4 linked regions of the Homo sapiens genome follow. The protein of the gene in region 3 purifies or fractionates together with the protein of the main gene of each other region. This does not show direct contact. Each region holds a gene or a part of one and is shown on either strand. Other genes may lie near its edges.

Region 1 (5,170 bases), on a different chromosome or scaffold from region 3:
CTCCCAAGTAGCTGGGACCACAGGCACGCACCACCATGCCAGGGTAATTTTTTTTTTTTTTTTTTTTTGGTAGAGACGGAGCCTTGCTATGCTGCCCAGGCTGGTCTCAAACTTCTGGGCTCAAGCGATCCTCCTCCCTCGGCCTCCCAAAGTGCTGGGACTAAAGGCGTGAGCCCTTGGGCTAGCAGTAATTATTTAAACGAATTATTTAGGAGCTCCAGATGGAAGGGCCCGGTTTGCCACCCGGCAAGGACAGAAGCTGAATCTACCTCCGGATTTCCCTCCAGAGCCCAGCTGGGTACCTGGTGCCCGGCTCAGCTTTCAGGCAGCTTTCTGGAGTGGATGAATGATTGGGCAGTGAGCCCAGGGCTGAACGACCTCTGAGCCCAGCTGTGGGCCACAGGGGGTGAGGCCCTGGCCTGAACAGCGTCATCTGCTTCACATCGAATCGGGGTCCTGATTCCGGGGCAGACGCCAGACCCACACGCTGGGAGCACACGTGTTCGGGGCTCTGGCCCAGGTGGAGGGAGGGCAGGGGCCGGGGTGCTCGTACCTTTGGTCTCGTCCTCGTAGACTTTGATGCCCAGAGGGAGCGGCTGCCGAGGGAGCAGCGTGGTGCTGGACAGCACCCTGGTCTCCCCTGTCACCTTGTCCTTCTCCACAGTGATCTCAACCGAGTACATGGCTGGCACGAGAGTCACGGGGTTACACCACGGCCTGCCCGCCCCCGCACCCCCCCGCCGGGCTGCGGCCAAGCCAGGGAGGGGGGAGCCAGCAGCGCAGAGCCAAGCAGCGATGGGGCAGGCGGAGCCGGGGATGCCTGGGCACCTTCTCGACGCGGCCCTCCCCAACTCTACATCCCTCCATAGCTCCCCAGTGCCTGGAGACGACCAGTCTGAACACCTCTCCTTGGCATTTGAGGCCCATCCTGCTGTCCGCCCAGATGGTCCTCGTCCCTGTACTCTGCACTGTGTCCTCTGTTTCGCCACCAAACTATTGTCTGTCAAGCTCAGGTTCCAGCCCAGCCCATCTGGAAAGCCTTCATTGTTCCCGGATCTTTTTAATTTTTTTGAGATGGAGCCGCCTTGCTCTGTCGCCCCGGCTGGAGCACAGTGGTGTGATCTGGACTCACCTCCCGGTTCTAGCGATTCTCCTGCCTCAGCCTTCCACGTAGCTGGGACTACAGGCGCCCGCCACCACGCCCAGCTAATTTTTGTATTTTTAGTAGAGACGGGGTTTCTCTATGTTGGTCAGGCTGGTCTCAAACTCCTGACCTCAGGTGATCCACCTGCCTTGGCCTCCCAAAGTGCTGGGATTACAGGCGTGAGCCACCGCGCCCAGCCTATTATTTAAATAGATACAGGGTCTCCCTCTGTTGGCCAGGCTGGAGTGGAGCGGCACGATCACAGCTCACTGCAGTCATGACCTTCCTGGCTCACCCCATTCTCCCACCTCAGCCTCCCAAGTAGCTGGGACCACAGGTGTGCGCCACCACACCCGGCTAATTTATTTATCTTTTTTGGAAATGGGGGTCTCACTATGTTGCCCAGGCTGGTCTCAAACTCCTGGGCTCAAGCAATCCTCCCACCTCAGCCTCCCAAAGCCCTGGGATTATAAACGTGAGCCCTCGAGCCCCACCATTCCTGGTTTCTCAGAGGAGCAGGTGAATCCCAGAGAGATCCTGCCTTGCCCGGGGTCACGGCGGAGACTGGGGCTCAGTCTGCAGACCCACAGCCCCCGCCCCGACCATCCAAGCTCCCAGGACTTGACGCCTCCTTCCAGCCAACGGTTGGACACGCCGTCATCTATTTAGACTCAGAATGAAGGAACCCTCCTGAGATAGTCGAACTTGCTACTCATCAGGGCCCTAACTCCACAGCCAGCACCTCGCCCCACTCTGTAAAAATCATTCCTGCAGAAACCACACAGAGCCTGCATCCTAACAGCGACTGGTGGCTGCCCGCCACCCCCAGGCCTGCTTGAAGATGACGAGCACTGGGGATCACCAGGCACCTCCCTGAGACCCCGCCCCGCAGCGGGAGCTGAACAGGGCTGCCAGGACTGGCCTGACCCATGACACTGCACCCCAGGTGCGGCCCAGCCTCAGGGCCTTTGCACAGGCTGTTCCCAATGCCTGGCACACCCCCCAGATAGCTGCATGTCCTCACCACTTCTGAGGGGCCATCGGTCCCCATCGTGGGCAGCCCTGCCATCGCCTGGCCCCTCGGCCCCCATAGCCACCTCGTTTCCCTCCTCCCACCCAACCTCGACGCTTAGGCCCGGCTGCGGCCCTGGACTCTGCTCTGCGCCGGGGACCTCGCCCAGGCACTCGGCTCTAATCTCCCGCACACCCATCCCCACCTGGACCTTGACCTGGACTCAGCCCCTATCCACAGGGGCCCCACTCTCACACGTCCATAACACTACTCCCAATCTGCCCCCTACACCTGCCCCCACCCTGGCTCTTCCCACCCGTTGGGGGCAGCTCAGTCCTCCCTCTTTTTTTTTTTGAGACAAAGTTTTGCTCTTGTTGCCCAGGCTGGAGTGCAGTGGCGTGATCTCAGATCACTGCAATCTCTGCCTCCCAGGTTCAACCGATTCTCCTGCCTAAGGCTCCCGAGCAGCTGGGATTACAGGCACCTGCCACCATGCCCAGCTAATTTTTTGTATTTTTACTAGAGACAGGGTTTCACCGTGTTAGCCAAGATGGTCTCGATCTCCTGACCTCATGATCTGCCCCCCTCGGCCTCCCAAAGTGCTGGGATTACAGGGGTGAGCCACCACGCCTGGCTAATTTTTCTATTTTTTAGTAGAGACGGGGTTTCACCATGTTGCTCAGGCTGGTCTTGAACTCCTGACCTCAAATGATCTGCCCGCCTTGGCCTCCAAAGGTGCTGGGATTACAGGCGTGAGCCACCGTGCCTGGCCAGTCCTCCCTGACACCTCGTTTCTCCTCAAACCCTGGGGGCTCCACCTTCAGAACATAAGGAACCGCCCACTGCTCGCCCCTCCACGGCCCATCCCAGCCTCCTCCCCCAGCAGCCCTGTCCCCTCCACCTGGCACCGTCCACGGTCTGTTCTCCCTGCAGTCACCAGAGGGCGTGGGTGAGCACGGAGTCGGGGCAGTCCCGGCTTTGCCTGCAGCCCCCCATGGTTCCTGCCTCCCTCCCGGGAAAAGCCCACGTCCCCTCCCGCCCCTGCCACAGGGCCCTCAACAATCTCTCCATCATCTCTCCTCCGCCCTCTCCCCCTCCTCACGCTGCTCCAGCCACACGGATCTCCTGGCCGTTCCTCCAACACCCCAGGCGCAGTCCTGCCCCGGGGCCTTTGCACTGGCCGTGCCCTCTGCCTGGAACACCTTTCCCCAGATAGCTGCGTGCCTTGGACACCTTCCTCCAGATAGCTGCGTGCCTTGCTCCCTCAGCACCTCTGGGTCTTTGCTCAGACGTCACCTCTTACGTTGAACGCTCCCCTCCCCTGAGCCCTCTGGTTCAAATTCTCCTTCCTCCAGCTCAACGTCCTTGGCCTCACTTTTCTACCGTAGTAGAGGTTGTGGCCCTCATTAGAATACCCTCTCCCCCAATGCCTGGCATGCAGCAGGCGCTTGAAAGGCATTCTGGGTGAAGGGACGACTGTTTTTCAACTCTATAGCTCTGCACAGCCTCAGCCCTCCACCCCAGACAGCTAGTCCAGAGCTGCCCACACTGTTGAGCAGGTTGTGCACTGCACAAAGTCAGTGGCCACGGGGATCAGCGGGGGACCTGGGCCTCGGTGTCTGCCAGGGCTGGTCTCACTGGCACAGAGGCCCACAGGCACCACCTGCTCTGACAAATGCCTCTGTCTGCTGCATCCTGGGGCAACCCCCACCCTGGACCGTGCTGGAGACCTGGGCCTCCGGGTGGCTCTCCTTCCTTCCAGCCCTGTCCCGTCCTGGGCAGCCACCCCAGAGTCCTTCTTCACCTCCCTGCCTTGCTGCCTTTTCTGAGACGGAGTCTTGCTCTTGTCGCCCAGGCTGGAGTGCAGTGGCACGACCTTGGCTCACTACAAACTCCGCCTCCCAGGTTCAAGCGATTCTCCTGCCTCAGCGTCCCGAGTAGCTGGGATTACAGGCGTGCACCACCATGCCCGGCTAATTTTTGTATTTTAGTAGAGATGGGGTTTCGCCATGTTGGCCAGGCTGGTTTCGAACTCCTGACCTCAGGCGATCTGCCCGCCTCGGCCTCCCAAAGTGCTGGGGTGGGTTACAGGTGTGAGCCACCACGCCCGGCCCTCTGCCTTCTTTCTGTGCTGTTCCAGCTCACTCACATAGCAGTGGTTTTGCCCACTGCGACGATTTCTCATTATTGGGCTCCTGTCCTGTGCCGGGCCCCAGGATGGCGTACTGAGGTCCCACCCCTCTGGCAGGCGGAGAAATTCAAGGCGGCAGACCAGGGGTTCGAGCCTGACTTGAGCACCGTGTGGCACTCAGCGTCAACCCCCACCTTCCCCTGCTTCTCGGAAGCGCAGCGGTGCTGGGGACCTGGCTTGGTTGCCTCCAGGGACGGGGCACCCACTTTCTCCCGGGGCAGCCAGTCCTACTGCCCGAGGACTGGAGCAGGTAAGATTTGCAGCGAGCATGTTCAGGCGTGAGCGCCACCCCCAGCGGGCCCCAGGAGGGAGCCGTGAGATTAGGGTGGAATGAAAGCCGTGAGGTCGCGTCGGTTAGAGCCGCCATGCGTGGGGCCCGTCTTCTCGGGGAAGCGTGGGCCGGCGTGGGACCAGGGCAACAAAGCAGAGGGGGCCCCCACCCCAGGCTCGGAGCCTCGGCCTCGGTCCAGCTGCCACCCCCATAACCACGGCCCCGTCAGACGCTGCGGAGAGCAGGTCGGTGTCGCCCCCGCCCCACCCGGCCCCCCGGACCGAGACTTGGTCCCTGACAGCGGCTGGATCTGGGGCCCAGAGCCTGGGGGCCAACCCACCTGCCTTCATCATGGGGGAGCCGTCAACCGTCCTCAGGGGCGTGTTGGAGACTCGCTTGTCTGCACGGGAGGTGGAAGCGGAGAGAGAGATGAGGGTCAGAGGAGAGGTCACATGGACCCCCCAGACAGCCCAACGCCCCTTCACAGAAGTGCATCCGGACTCCCACATGCACCTGGGCCTTTGACACCCAGACCCCACCCAGACACAGGAA
Region 2 (5,170 bases), on a different chromosome or scaffold from region 3:
CCAGGGACAGGGTGGAGAAGGAAACCCAGTCTTGGGGCCCAGCCCCTTGGGCCATCAGAGGCCAAGGCCTAGGCCTGTCACCCAGGTAGCCTCCCCCGCCTCGCTCTGCCCCTGCCATCACCACACCCCTTAGCCTAACAGAGAATAGATTTTATATCAAATCAGGTCAAGGGACTAGGGCAGGGAGTGGCTTAGAGGGGCCTGAGGAAGGAAAATCCTTTAGGGCCACACTAGGGAGACCCAGATGAGCGGGGAAGGAGGAAGAAAACACCCCCACAGTGAGTGGGAGTCCTTTGTCCCCCCTCCAGTCCCCCGCTCCTGGGCTGGGCTGCGGACTTGCAGGGAATCATTGAAGAGAGAGGAGCGCTAGAGCCCAGTGAGCACCCGCCATGCGTGAGGCACTGTGCTGAGCTTGCATCAGACCTGATCCTGCTTAATCCTCAGGCATCCCTGTGCGGGAGGTGCTGTCCTCATGTCACATTACAGACGGGAAGCTCAAGGCGGAGGGGTGAAATCACCGCCCAAGGCCACATGCCTGCCTGCTGCCAGAGCCTAGTTTTCCATGATGGCTCCCAGTGAATACTTTTTGTTGTTGCTGTTGTTGTTAGTTGTTTATGAGACAGGGTCTCATTCTGTCACCCAGGCTGGAGTGCAGTGGCATGATCATGGCTCACTGCAACCTCAAATTCCTGACCTCAAGTGATCCTCCCACCTCAGTCTCCCAAGTAGCTGGGACTCAGGAGACTGGGAGACTGGGTACCACCACATCCAGCTAATTTTGTTTCTGTTTTTTGTAGAGTTGGGGTCTCACTGTGTTGTCCAGGCTGGTCTTGAACTCCTGGGCTAAAAGAATCCTCCTGCCTTGGATTCCCAAAGTGCTGGGATTACAGGTGTAAGCCACCATTCTTGGCTAGCCTGATGAATACTAATGAACAATTTTGTCACTGTCCCAGGCGCTTTTCGCATATTATCTCATGTAATGCTCACACTAATATGAGGTAGGTGGTACCAGTAGCCTTCTCTTACAGATGAGGAAACTAAGACTCAGAGAGATTTGGTAACTTGCCTAGGGTTCAAAGCTGGGAAGTAGCTGAGAGAAAATTTGAACCCAGGCAGTGTGGCCCAGAGTCCGTGCTTGTCACACAGTGACTGATAGAGAAGCTGATACCTGCAGGGGGCCTCCTGGCCGCTCCTCTCCCATGGGGGCCCTGCCAGCCCCCAGGAGCGTCCTCACAGGGCTGCCAAATAAAATACAGAACACCCGGTTAAGTTTGGAATTCCGCTAAATGCGGAATATGGAATGTATTTATACTAAAAAATTATTCTTTATCTGAATTTCACATTTAACGGGTGTCCTGGATTTTCTCTGGCCACCCTGTGTCCCCACAGCCCCGTGTGTGCCTGTGCCCTGATGCTCCGCCCCTGCCCCTCATCCTCCCCATGGGCAGAGGCCTGAGTGGGCAGAATCCTGCCCCCTTGCCTCCCCAGCCTACACACACTACCAAGTGCCCCTGAGCGAGAGGGCTCGGCCCATGGCCTGCCTGGGATGTCTTCCGCAGGGTGAGTGGGACTGCTGTGGGTGACTTGGCAGGTGAGGGTCTTCAGAACAACCCCCAGCCCTGGCAGGTGCCTGGCCTGGGTGGTGGGTAAGCTGGGTGGCCCTCCAGTCTAAGCAGGGGCATGCCAGGTGGGACTAGGGGGCTGGCTCTGCCAGGCCCTGTGGTCCCCCTCACATCTTTCCCTGTCCCCTACCCTGACTTCCGCACCCAACCAGGTTTCATGCCTGTTCTGGCCCCAGAGAAAAGGGTGCTGCCACCCCCACTTGCTGTGTCCCACCCGGGGCCAAGGGAAGCACCGCCTGCCTTTCCTGACTTTGTTGATTCTCCAAGGAATGTTATGGACTCTGGCACCGAGCCCCCGCCAGGCTCCAGCCCTGGGTGTGGCAGCCAGCTGGGTCACGGGGGACATGCTTGGTGCCTGAGGTGTGGAGGCTGCCTGCTGGCTAAAGGATTAGGGTGGGAGGGTCTTTGGGACCCCTCGCCATTGTGTGTCCTCTCCTAGAGCCTCACAGCCCCGGCCACCTGGAAACGCTCTTTCTCTACTCCCTGCTCGGCCTTGGCCACAGCTGCTGGCTGTAGCAGTTCCCTGCATGACTCGCATTCCTGTGGAGCCCTGTGTGCACCTCCCGAGTGCGAGCCGCCTATTTCCCCCTGGCTGGCCCACCTTCCACCCTCTCCACCCATGAACCCTGTACGCACACACACACTCACACGCACACACTCACACACATTCACTCACACTCATACACACACACTGTCTCACGCACACACACACTCCCCACCTATGCATACACCCCACACACACCCTGCCCTGCCTGCATGCCACCCCTCCGGGACACGCCTGGACAGAACTCCCACCCTCCCTGCCAGCTGCCCTGGCGCCTGTCTCCACTGCACAGCCTCTATATCCATCCCTGCCTGGGGGCGACCTGCACTATCTTCAGCACACAGGGCTTGTCCTCTCTGAGCTCAGTGGTGCACCTGTGAAAAGGGTGGGATTTGGGGCCCCTTCCAGCTCTGACATGAGGTAGTTTCTGGTCCCTGGTCTTGGCTACCCTTACAGAACTGCTCAGGCCCCAGACCATCCACGCCCCAAACCGCCCGGGCTGCAGGTGGAAGTTGAGAAACTGGGCCTGCCCTTTCCTCAGCACGCCTGACCCCTCTCTGAGGCTGAGATAAGCGGGCAGCTTGGGAAGGTGTCTGAGCCCCAGCTGACAACACTGAATTGGGCGGGAGGTGCCGCTGTCCTGGTCTGGGGAAGGTACCCCCTGGAGGCCATGGGACTAAGGGGACAGATGGATCAGAACACGTGGGTGCCTCTTTCCACCCGGGGCACTAACTCACTTCCCCAGAGCCCTGCCTCAGTTTCCTTCTTTGTGATCATTTACTGAGCACCCACTATGGGCCAGGCCTAAACCAGGCTCCATGTGCTTGTGCCTGTTGTGGCCACACACAGCCCTTTGGGGTCAGACTCCCCCAACTTCCACCACATTTCAGCCCCACCGGGTGCCGACCTGGCTGTCTGCTTCTTTAACAGCATTTTTGAGATATTCATTCACATACCTTATAATTTATCCATTGAAAGTACACAGTGCGGAGCACTTTGGGAGGCAGAGGCTGTTGAATCACTTGAGGCCAGGAGTTTGAGACCAGCCTGGGCATCATAGTGTGACCCCAACTCTACAAAAAAATTTAAAAATTATTCAGGCCTGGTAGTGCAAGTCTGTAGTCCCAGCTCCTCGGGAGGCTGAGGTAGGTGGATTGTTTGAGCCCAAGAGTTTGAGGCTGCTGCAGTGAGCCATTATTGTGCCACTGCACCCCAGCCTGGCTACAGAGCAAGACCCTGTCTCAGAAAAAAAAAAAAAGTATACAATGGTTTCCAGCATATTATATCATTAAACTTTAAAAATTATGGTAAAATAGGCCGGGTGCTGTGGCTCACGCCTGTAATCCTAGCACTTTGGGAGGCCGAGGCGAGTGGATCACTTGAAGTCAGGAGTTCGAGACCAGCCTGGCCAACATGGTGAAACCCCATCTCTACTAAAAATACAACAATTAGCCGGAAATCACTTGAACCCGGGAGGTGGGGGTTGCAGTGAGCTGAGATCGTGCCACTGCACTCCAGCCTGGGCAACAGAACGAGATGCTGTCTCAAAAAAAAAAAAAAAAAAAAAAAATAGGCTGGGCGCAGTGGCTCATGCCTGTAATCCCAGCACTTTGGGAGGCTGAGGTGGGCGGATCATGAGGTCAGGATATCAAGACCATCCTGGCTAACACGGTGAAACCCCGTCTCTACTAAAAAATACAAAAAAAATTAGCCAGGTGTGGTGGCGGGCACCTGCAGTCCTAGCTACTCAGGAGGCTGAGGCAGGAGAATGGCGTGAACCCAGGAGGCGGAGCTTGCAGTGAGCCAAGTTCGTGCTACTGCACTCCAGCCTGGGCAACAGAGCGAGACTCCATCTCAAAAAAAAAAAAAAAATATGGTAAAATATATATAATGAAATTGGCCATTGCAACCATTTTTAAGTGGTTAATTCACTGGCATTAATTACATTCACGCTGTTGTGCAACTATTACTGTTGCCTATTTCCAAAACTTTTTCATCATCCAAACAGAAACTAACCATCAAGCAATAACTCTCCATTACCTCCCCATTCCAGCCCCTGGTACCCTCCCAGCTACTTTCTGTCTCTATGAACTTGCCGCTCTGGGTACCTCACATGGGTGGAATCACATAGTATTTGTCGTTTGGGGTCTGGCTTCTTTCACTTAGCATGATGTTTTCAAGGTTCATCCATGTTGTAGCGTGCATCAGATTTCACTCCTTTACATGGCTGAATACTATTCCATTGTATCGATAAACCATATTTTGCTTATGCACTCATCTGTCTCATATGTTTTTTGTTTGTTTTGTTTTGTTTTGTTTTTTGAGACGGAGTCTCGCCATGTCTCCCAGGCTGGAGTATAGTGGCACAATCTCAGCTCGCTGCAACCTCTGCCTTCCGGGTTCAAGCATTCTCCTGCCTTAGCCTCCCTAGTAGCTGAGATTACAGGCGTGGGCCACCATGCTCGGCTGTTTTCTATTTTTAGTAGAGACGGGGTTTCACCATGTTGGTCAGGCTGGTCTCGAACTCCTGACCTCAAATGATCTGCCTGCCTCGGCCTCCCAAAGTGCTGGGATTACAGGTGTGAGCCACCATGCCCAGCTAATGTTTTATGTTTTTAGTAGAGACAGGGTTTCACCATGTTGGTTAGGCTGGTCTCGAACTCCTTGCCTCAAATGATCCACATGCCTCAGCCTCCCAAAGTGCTGGGATTGCAGGTGTGAGCCACCATGCCCGGCTGATGTTTTATATTTTAAACAGAAACAGGGTTTCACCATGTTGGTCAGGCTGGTCTTGAACTCCTGACCTCAAATGATCTGCCTGCTTCGGCCTTCCAAAGTACTGGGATTACAGGTGTGAGCCACCATGCCCAGCTAATGTTTTTTATTTTTTGTAGAGACAGGGTTTCACCATATTGGTCAGGCTGGTCTTGAACTCCTGACCTCAAATGACCCGCCTGCCTTGGCCTCCCAAAGTGCTGGGATTACAGGCTCATCTGTTGATGAG
Region 3 (4,393 bases):
CTGTGCCCCCACCAGGTCAGACATTTGAGTAACTCTCCAACCCCGACACGCCAGTTGGACCAAACTCTGTGCGCTTGTTGAACTGGGCCCTTCCTTTGAACACACTTCTCAGTTTTGCTTGGCTAGTTCCTACTTGTCTACAAGAGCGAGCTCATACATGGCGTCCTCTGGACAGCCTTCCCTGACCTTCCGGCCTGGCCGAAGGGCTGTGCTGTGCCCGCAAAGCCTGCTGAGCGTGCGTCTACCATTGAACTTATTCCACCTTCTTATGATAATTGACTGACTTATCTGTCAACCCCTTGAGACTAAGAGCTCCTTGAGGGCAGATATATTGAGTCTTCAGTGCCCACTATGAATCACCAGTTAACAAAATCCACTCCCTTAATGTGCACCTGTAGATATAAAGAATGGATTTAAAACTTAAACACAGGACAAGGAACCAGTTGCCTATTCCAGACTTGAGCATCATATGAACGCATGAGGTATAGATTCTCCTCCAAGCTGGAGTGAGGTGAATGAAAATCAAGGTGAACCACCACATCTTCAGCTCATTATTATCTCTCCTACGAAATGAGAAGGATCCATATTTATTCCACTTTCTCCCCACCCCCAGCAGATAAAGGATGCCTCCTGATTTTCATGCTGCAACTCATAAAATGTGACAGGTCTGTAAGGAACTTGTCTTTGCGGATGGAAGCAGAGCGCCCTGAGTGGGGATGAGATGCTTCCTGATGCTGCAGTACCGGTTGGGCACCACAAGAGGGAGCCAGGAATGGCTGGACGGGTTGATACACCCAACAAACCAAGTAATTTTGGCATCTAGGAGTTGAGAACATTCCTAAAACAGAAAATCTCAGGATACAAGAGCTGTTTTCCCAGTGATATAAGATCCCTCCCCTGCCTCACCCTTTCTCCCTCCACCCCCAGTTCCCACATTGAATATTTTCAATCTTCAATAGATTAAATATTGAAGACTGAAGATAGAATATTTTCCATCTTCAGGCCAGTAGTCAGATAAGCATCTACAAAAGACGGAGCCACGCGGGGTTTACAAAAGTCACCTGTATTCCAGCCAAAATAGCTTTAAAAAGGAATCCCTGCTAAAGGGGGGGACAAACTACGTAAGACACAATACATTTAAAATATGTATTGAAATTACAAATCAAACTTTTTCCATATGATTCCAGAGTACAAAACACAACATTAAAAGGCATTCAAACAGCTCTTTTATACATCACAGTGTTAGTGGCACAAAATGTACTGACATTTCAAAAACACAAATCAAATCTGTTTTGATTTTGTTTCACCACCACTTGTCAAATACATAACGTATACATGTGCATGACTCATTCATGCATATTTTTATACAAGATTAAAATACACCCATAGTAAAGTGAGCAAAGAAGGAAAGAAAGGGCAGGCATGGGGCATGTAGCTACCCCTCACTGAAGGCTCCGGAACTGTGGAAGACAGAATTGCACAAATCAAAGGAAGGGTGGAGACCCTGGGTTTTTTAAACATCAAGACGGCATGCTCTCCTAGTTGTGAAGCATTAGCAATTAGGTTTTAACGCAGGCCCCTTTGTTCCTTTTGGTGTTTTTGGTAATACCTGTCATAATCCCTTCATTTTGTTTATTTTCATAAGGGCTTAGGTTAATTATCAGAAATAAACAAGCTTTGGTATTTTTTAAAGAGAACTTCATGAAGCTTTACACATGCAAAATGTTTTCCCTTGATGATCTCCTTGTGATTTATATATATACACAGGTGTGCTCACTAATAAATGAGAATCTGAGACACACACACAAAGCCCATCCTGGATCCTTTCAATCCCCTAATTTTTAAAGACTACCAAGAAAAAAATGTTTTTTTAATTTGTAAAATGACTTCTAACTTTTGCAATACAAATGAAAACAATAAACTCATCTTGAAGTAATTTTTGCATCTCTGATAGTCCCTCCCACAGGTCCTGTGTTCTAATCAGGAACTGGCCTGTGCCCTAAACTGGTTTTATGGAATAATATGTTGTCAAGATCATTTGTTCCCCTTTAAGAAAATAGGCCGGGTGGGGTGGCTCAGGCCTGTAATTCCAGCACTTTGGGAAGCCGAGGTGGGCAGATCACCTGAGGTCAGGAGTTTGAGAGTAGCCTGGCCAACATGGTGAAACCCCGTCTCTACTGAAAATACAAAAATTAGCTGGGTGAGGTGGTGGGTGCCTGTAATCCCAGCTACTTGGGAGGCTGAGGCAGGAGAATCGCTTGAACCCGGGAGGCAGAGCTTGCAGTGAGCCGAGATCCTGTCATTGTACTCCAGCTTGGGGGACAAAAGCGAAACTCCGTCTCAAAAAGAAAAAAAAAGAAAGAAAATGCCAGAGGTGGCAGATGTTGGTTCCTCTGTCCACAGCTACTCCTATGAGTTGAGGAGGAAGAACTAATTTGGACAGTTATTCCTGCAATCCGATGCTTTATCTCAGATCCTAAGTCAGTCTCTGCTACGTGGACATCTATGGTGACTGCATCTTTGCAAGGTGCTGACCTCCTATGAGGCTGCAAGCTCATCTGGCTGGGCTATGGACTACACAGCAGAGCCAGACTGAGAGGTCAGGCATTTCCAGCAAAACCTCCAAATGTGGTCAGTTACTCAAGGGCCTCAGAGAAGCCACAGGTCCACTGGGCTAAGGCCAGTCCTCACTGGCCACCCACCCTGGGCGGCAGTACAGCAGCCATGGTTGTCTAAGGGCCTTCGCCCCTTACTCCCCAGGATTAAAGGCCTCTTAGTGAACACATGCCATATGCTTCTGGGGCTTGCAGTGAACACCATCTGTAAGAGTGAATGCCATTTTTCAATGGAGACAAATTATGCCGCTTCACAGGAATAAGTCCGTCCACTCAACGCAGAACTCCCCAGGTTTTACTGGGGAATGATGGCAAGATCAAAGTCCAAACCCAGGGCCATCTGCCTGTGTGCTATTTCCATTTTACATCAAGCAGGGTTCATACTGTATTCCCATCAAAGATAAGTCTGGCACTCCTTACTAAAACAGAAGGAAATGCGAGTTTATGTATCTCAGAGTGATCTTGCTGGTATTTATATAGGAAATGGACAATTTTAATTTTATATCTAGATCAAAATGAGGAAACTGAGGCATGCTTCATACAAAAAGTCAGAGCCAGTAGGTGCCAATTTGACTGCCCCTGGCTGGCCCCAGAATCTCTGTGGTCCCTATCTGGGTTGAACTACGTGCTTGTGAAACACATCAGAGGTGAAGGCACAAGGATGGCTGGGGCTACAGATGTGCATGACTGGGCCAGAGACTCTTCCAACAGAACAGCCTGTCCCTCTAGAAATAAGGTCATCTGAGCTCTAGCCCTGGGGATGCAGCCTTTCCAAAGGCTCTGACTCTCATCCTAAGGACGGGGGTGCTACTGTGTGGGCTCATGCGATGGGCAGCAGCAATTTCAGGCAGGAAGGATGAGCATATGGTGGAGGCGTGTCCTGTGGGCCACTGGACACAGGGCCACAGGCCTCCCATGTGTGCTGGGCATGTTAAAGGGCAGTGGCTGGACAGCTGCATCCACATATCACAGGCTGAGGGCTCAAGCCCAGCCAATGACTCCCGCGTGGAGTTGCCACCCACCTCCAGAAAAGCTATTCTAACAGTAGACACCATCACAGCACCACAAACGACAGAGAGCCACAGCCCAGGTTCCATCCAGAAAGGGAGTCGCAGGCATGTTCTTACTGAGTTACTAAACTTGCAATTACAAGGAGAGCTTTTTGAATGTAATTTTGACACACAGGGATTTTCTAAATGGCTTCGGGTTCATAAGGAAAATCAACATGACAGGTGAAGAGTGAGGTGACGCTGTTTTTTCTAACGAATTCAATGTTAGGAAATAAGAAATAAATTTCCAACCAGGGAAAGTAAACTAGGACCTGAGACTGATACTCAAATGCAGAAGTCAAACACACACAAAGCAACATTTTAAAAATGTGCTTGTGATGGGCAAATAACTGAGATAAAAGGATTTTGTTTTACTTCTTTATAGAATGTTTAACAAGATTTTTAAAATCCCACTGTAATATAGCTACAATATTTGCCTGTTATTTTTAGAAGTTTTAAATTCAATGCAGTTTGCTTTGTAAAAGCACCTGTGGCTTTTAGAAGTAAATTCTCTTTAAAGAATACACTTTCTCCACTTTTCAAAGTCAATTGGTGGAATAATGTGTATGTGTCCTTATTAATCCCTGCATCCTGCTGCCATGGAAATGGTCACAGACAGCCCTGTAAAAGATCAAGTGGTAAAATCCCCACGTTAAAACGAAGTGAAATGGGAGGTTCTTTTCCCCAACAAGAGCAAAACGGTTAGCAACAGGACTTGGAACTGTGTAA
Region 4 (5,170 bases), on a different chromosome or scaffold from region 3:
CCTGTCAAAGTTTGATATTCAATTTAGATCTGGGTCTGACAGATTTCAAAGCTCCATGACTCAAGCTATAGGATTCAAAATCCACCATCTATTTTCTTCTCTTCTTAGGTAAATGGTGAGCAAGGACAACCACAAATTTTACTAGCCTCAGATTAGAGATTCCCATATATGGGAATCAGTTCAATTTTATTTGATGTCAGAAAAAAAAAAAACCTGCATATAGTGCACTTTGTTCTAAAAGATCTTGGTCAGGGAGTTCCCCTTAATATTTTTAGAAATTCAGTTTATTGGATATTTTATTTCAAGGCTAATATCTTCATTTATATATTCTGCTTACAAAAACAAACAAAAACCTACACAGAGAACTTGACCCACTACTATAAAAATGAATATAGGTATTAATAATTTCCATTTTTAGTATGTTAATTAACAAAAAATACAAATATAGTTGGCTTGAGATACTAAAAAAAATCTATGTACTCATTCCTGTAGGTAACTAAATAGGTTAAAAATAATTCAGATCACAAAAAGTTACCAAATGAAATAAACTCAGAAATGATTCAGAAGAAGAGGTTCAAAAATAGCTTTAGAAATTATTCACCTGCCAATTTGGCTGAGAGAGCTGGCTCTCTACATGTATGAGACCAATTTTATTCAGTTAACCTCCTATAGCTGTCTACACTAATGATGGAAGGAAAACTGGGAACATTTCGTGGGAGTTGGTTAATTTTTAAAAAGATGATAAAACTAACACAAAATGTGTATAGACACTTACGTTATCTGCCCAGTAAGTGTCAGGTAGAAAAATAGAGCAAAACAGTAAAGACACAATCACCACACAGAACTTGTTCAATTGTGAAGCTGGCTTACAATTTAAGGAGAGAGATTACAGCAGCAAGAATATGGGACTTGATCCATAAGCCTCTCCCCTCCTCAAAAGACTATACTGCAAGTACAATGCTATCAACCAAACACAAGCTGGACTATGGTCTGAAAAGTGACTTTATAAAATAATAGATGTAGCTAGACATAAGAAAATAAATGAGTTTTCATCATATTCTGGTATGCTAAAGGCTGATGAGTGAAAGCATTTTAAATAAAGCATTGTTGTCATCCTTCATTTTCAAAGATGACACTATCTGACAGGAGACCTTGTCTGAAAAGATAAATTAGGGACCGTTAGTCTTTTCTCCGGGGAGCATACACAAAGCCAGACCCTTGATTAGGAATCATTGCTCCAATCTGAAATGCCTGTTGCCATTTGCAACACTGCCTCCTAGACTCGAGGTCAGCCTTGGCTCAGGAAGATCAATTTCATTCCTGATACTGTCAGGCTAGTCTGGCATTTGCTGCGGTTTCTCAGTCATTCACAATATTGGTTGTTTTATCTTATTATCTAAGTGTTACTGTCTAAGTGAGACTATTTGCTCAATTACAATCTAGACTAAAAGATCATGGCATAAATAATCTTGTTTTAAATGCTTCGTAAGTTTTACATAATCTTACTTTTAAAAAAGTATGAGTTTTAAAAAAAAACTCATTCATTAAAAAAAACTTGTAAGTTATCATTTAACTCAGTGAAAGGCCTGAAGGTTTGTTACTGTTCCTATTAATCTCATAATTTATTAAATTGAATAAATTTTTTTATGCATGAAACTGTTCCTTCTAACACATCACAGATAATTCAACTAGATTATCTTTTGGACCGTATATTTATAATGAAGTCAGGGTACACTGTGGCACTATAATTTGTTATTATCAGAGGTCACTTAAGTCCCTCAAGTGTTAGGTACAGATGAATTTGCTTAAATAATTGTACTGTTAATCAAGCACTTGGTGATTAGTAAATTGGTGATTTTAATTGCAGCAATTTGCTTGCTCAGGACATAAAAACATAAAAGTACAGAAAATACCACAAAACTTCTGAAATTATTACTCAGTGCTCTCCTGTGCATTCTGGATGCTAAATCAGAAGAACAGGGAAAAAGTGTATTATGGTTTAACTCAACCCAAAGAAATATTACCAATAAAGCAGAGAAGGAAGAACAATAACTCACTTAAAATCCTGGTGATGGGAATATAAGCAATTTCTTATCTCCGCTTTGCTTATCTGCATTTAAAAAAATTTTCTTCATTGAATGTTGACTATTTTGTGTGATGGAAAATGTTATTTTAAAAATAAAGAAATTTAAGGCAGTGCCATATGTATTAACACTAACCAGCTTTTTGTTTTACTTGATCAAAAAACAAAACACTACCTGATTCATACAGTTCCATCAAAAACTAACCTGCTCGGTATGGCCATGATTGAGGTTATCTTCTTTACTGGACGACACAAGTTGTACAACACTGATCTTGCTTCTCCGGCAGGGATGAATAGTTCATTTGCCTGACGATCTCAGCAAAAAGTTCATCCACCATTGATTTACTTTTTGCCGATGTCTCCATGAAAGGACAGCCCCATTCTTGAGCCAGAGCTCTGCCTTCTGAAGACATAACCTCTCTTTCTGGTTCCAGATCCACTTTATTTCCTACTAGGATTAGTGGGACTTTTTCATATCTCTTCACTCTGACAATTTGATCTCTCATTGGCTTGATATCCTATTCAAGCAATCACAAAGAGAAAGAAAAACATTATGCTGTTTGTATAACCATAACAGAAATATTACAGTATTACAAAAAGTCATACCTCAGTGAGTATACAAAGCTGAATCCAAAATGAAATCACACCTAAACAGAGAAATCGTCATCATTTTGTCCACTGAAGTAAGAACTAGATAATTTCCAGAGACCCTACCTGCTGGGTTTGTCAAGAATATAAAACATGGGTTGCACACTAACCTTGACTCATATAATCACTTTTACCCACCCCCAGTCTATACTGATTAAAAAAGCAAGTTTCCAAATGATTAATCCATTCGTACATAAGGATGTTTGGCCATCTCCCTAAACCTGCCTGCTTGTCATCACTCCTTGTAACACCTGTTATCCTAGCACAGGATTGCAGCATCTATGCATTCCTAGCCATGTAGCAAGAGGGCTTGAGTGAAAGTGTTTTAAGTGGGAAAAAAAACCACTTTGTAATGCCTAGAATAAAAGAGTTACAACCAGATGGATACACTTAAATGTTTTATTTTAAATTGAATGGTATGCATTTATTCCAGTAAAATCAAACACCTTACAATACACTTAAATTCACTAGAAACTACTGTAACAGTGAGCAACTCCTGGGAAGGACAGTGCAAGGGGAGTCTGGGTGGGAAGAAGTCATTTTTTTTTTTTTTGCCTGTGTTTGTTTTTACTACTTGTTTCCCCATGCGTATTACTTTTTCCAAGTAGTTACAACGAATTACAAAAGATAAGAGCGTTAGCAATTCTCCAGTAGCATCAGTTTTGGGAGGTGGGGGCAAGTATTGATTTAATACAATATTATAGACTTAATTATAAAAATCACCATTTTCGGTAATATTTCATAATTTTAAAAGTTTGCCTTAAATAGAAAATGTATGCTTAATTGGAAGTCATAGTAAGTACAGAATATTCACATGTGGGCCTACGGAAAAGCAAGGGACTATGAAAATCTATAAAAATATAGTTATTTGATATTTGCATCAATTTGGTTTGATAATATATCAACTCAGATTTCTAGGTTACGCTTATTTCCCATTGTCTTTATGGAAACATAAGTTCAGCTGAAAATCCAAACTTAGGGCATTTGGGCTCAAAAGAGTTTACACCTCCACTGAAATAACGGCACAGTTTTTCACTCCCAATTCATGTCTATAACACAAATGGATATAACAGAAATCTTATGAAACACCCTTCAAAAGACTCTCAGCCTCCAGAGAGTAAGCTGATAGAATAACAAATCTCCTGAGGATCCTTTAGGGAAAAAATGCCTGTCAAACAGCACCTTCAGTACTTTGGTACTTTCTGGGGGAAAATGCTTTTATGATACTATTGTTTGGGAATTTATGCCTACATAAAATGAATTTAGTTTGGTCTCAATAGCTTTGATTTATTTCCCCAGAATTTATCATCTTAAAAAAAAAAAATCCCTGAAGTTGTTCTATCAGGTTACTGGGAAAGTTCACTATAGTACTTTAATTTAAAATACTAAAGAAAGTGGAATTAGCACATTGTATTGGCTAAAGCACTTAAGGTCTCTTAAGTAAGCTACATTAAGTGCATACCTTTAAATGCAGAAAAAATATATCCATTTCCTAAATCAATGGAGGTCAATATAATGGGTCAATATGAGGTTATTCATTTTCAAGGGATAAATAGAAACATACATTGCATATCCTAAAATAACGTTAAACCTTCAGTCTGTTTCCCAGTGAAGGACAGGACAGATTTTCTAAGAGATTGGACCACATCCAGTTTGGCCACCCAGCCGGAGTAAGAAATCTGCACTTGTTCAGTGTTCCCAGACCCACGTATTTTCTGTAAATACAGGCAATGTTACCAGAAACAATTTGGATCAACTGCAGAAAAAGAGTCATTCCTGATTTTTGTTGGTTATTAATTCTAGGTACTAGTCTTTTCTATTAGTAACTTTTCTTCCTACTACACGCCCCAAGTAATTAAGTAAAATGCCTAGAAGGCAGGTCTTGAGTTCTTCGTCTTGCAACACTAAGATTTATGAATCTAGTTGAGAAACTTGAGAGAGAAGGGGAGGGCGGCGGGAGGGGGTGTTGGGGGGTGGGAGGGGAAGGTGTGGGTGGGACAGACACAGAGGACTTATCTGTGCAACAGATAATCGGCTCCAAATAATTTTTTCAAAGTGCTCTATTTACCCGAGATTATTTGTTAGATGTTTTGTCGTGTAAGTTAATCAATACTTGTTGAATTGAGCAAGCAACTTCAGAAGGTTATATTCCAGGCGAAATATACACAGACTGACATTTCTTTTTCACTTTTCTTTCACTTAAAAATAGCTTTAAAATATTTGTTGACGCTTGTTACTTTTTACTACGCTCTATAGAAACAACCCGATAGTCTTCCATGGCAGGAGTAACCTCAAAAATGCGTCATGTCTAACTTTCAAAAGCAAAGCACAGTCATTAATGCACGGTTCAAGCAACCCAGAAGTCGATGTCGGATTACCACACCCCCTTCTAACAAATTACAAGACTTGGTTTGGTTACCTGAAAAGACTGTTGATTAA

Evidence for each region. The genes of interacting proteins can lie anywhere in the genome.
Region 1: the proteins of RNF144A (region 3) and PALM purify together in Homo sapiens (affinity purification with mass spectrometry, with the first as the bait; one large-scale study listed by BioGRID). This does not show direct contact.
Region 2: the proteins of RNF144A (region 3) and PLCD3 purify together in Homo sapiens (affinity purification with mass spectrometry, with the first as the bait; one large-scale study listed by BioGRID). This does not show direct contact.
Region 4: the proteins of RNF144A (region 3) and RAP2C purify together in Homo sapiens (affinity purification with mass spectrometry, with the first as the bait; one large-scale study listed by BioGRID). This does not show direct contact.

Annotation. Positions count from the first base shown.
Region 1 is NC_000019.10:735,867-741,036, reverse strand, and holds part of PALM (paralemmin-1), read right to left. Parts: intron 5,019-5,170; coding exon 4,959-5,018; intron 686-4,958; coding exon 554-685; intron 1-553. UniProt on the Homo sapiens protein: Involved in plasma membrane dynamics and cell process formation. Isoform 1 and isoform 2 are necessary for axonal and dendritic filopodia induction, for dendritic spine maturation and synapse formation in a palmitoylation-dependent manner.
Region 2 is NC_000017.11:45,124,914-45,130,083, reverse strand, and holds part of PLCD3 (1-phosphatidylinositol 4,5-bisphosphate phosphodiesterase delta-3), read left to right. Parts: intron 1-5,170. UniProt on the Homo sapiens protein: Hydrolyzes the phosphatidylinositol 4,5-bisphosphate (PIP2) to generate 2 second messenger molecules diacylglycerol (DAG) and inositol 1,4,5-trisphosphate (IP3).
Region 3 is NC_000002.12:7,040,834-7,045,226, reverse strand, and holds the end of RNF144A (E3 ubiquitin-protein ligase RNF144A), read right to left. Parts: 3' UTR 1,048-4,393; downstream 1-1,047. UniProt on the Homo sapiens protein: E3 ubiquitin-protein ligase which accepts ubiquitin from E2 ubiquitin-conjugating enzymes UBE2L3 and UBE2L6 in the form of a thioester and then directly transfers the ubiquitin to targeted substrates.
Region 4 is NC_000023.11:132,211,846-132,217,015, forward strand, and holds part of RAP2C (ras-related protein Rap-2c isoform 1 precursor), read right to left. Parts: coding exon 5,151-5,170; intron 2,731-5,150; exon of another isoform or gene 2,690-2,730; intron 2,602-2,689; coding exon 2,323-2,601; 3' UTR 2,289-2,322; intron 2,111-2,288; exon of another isoform or gene 2,058-2,110; intron 1-2,057. UniProt on the Homo sapiens protein: Small GTP-binding protein which cycles between a GDP-bound inactive and a GTP-bound active form. May play a role in cytoskeletal rearrangements and regulate cell spreading through activation of the effector TNIK.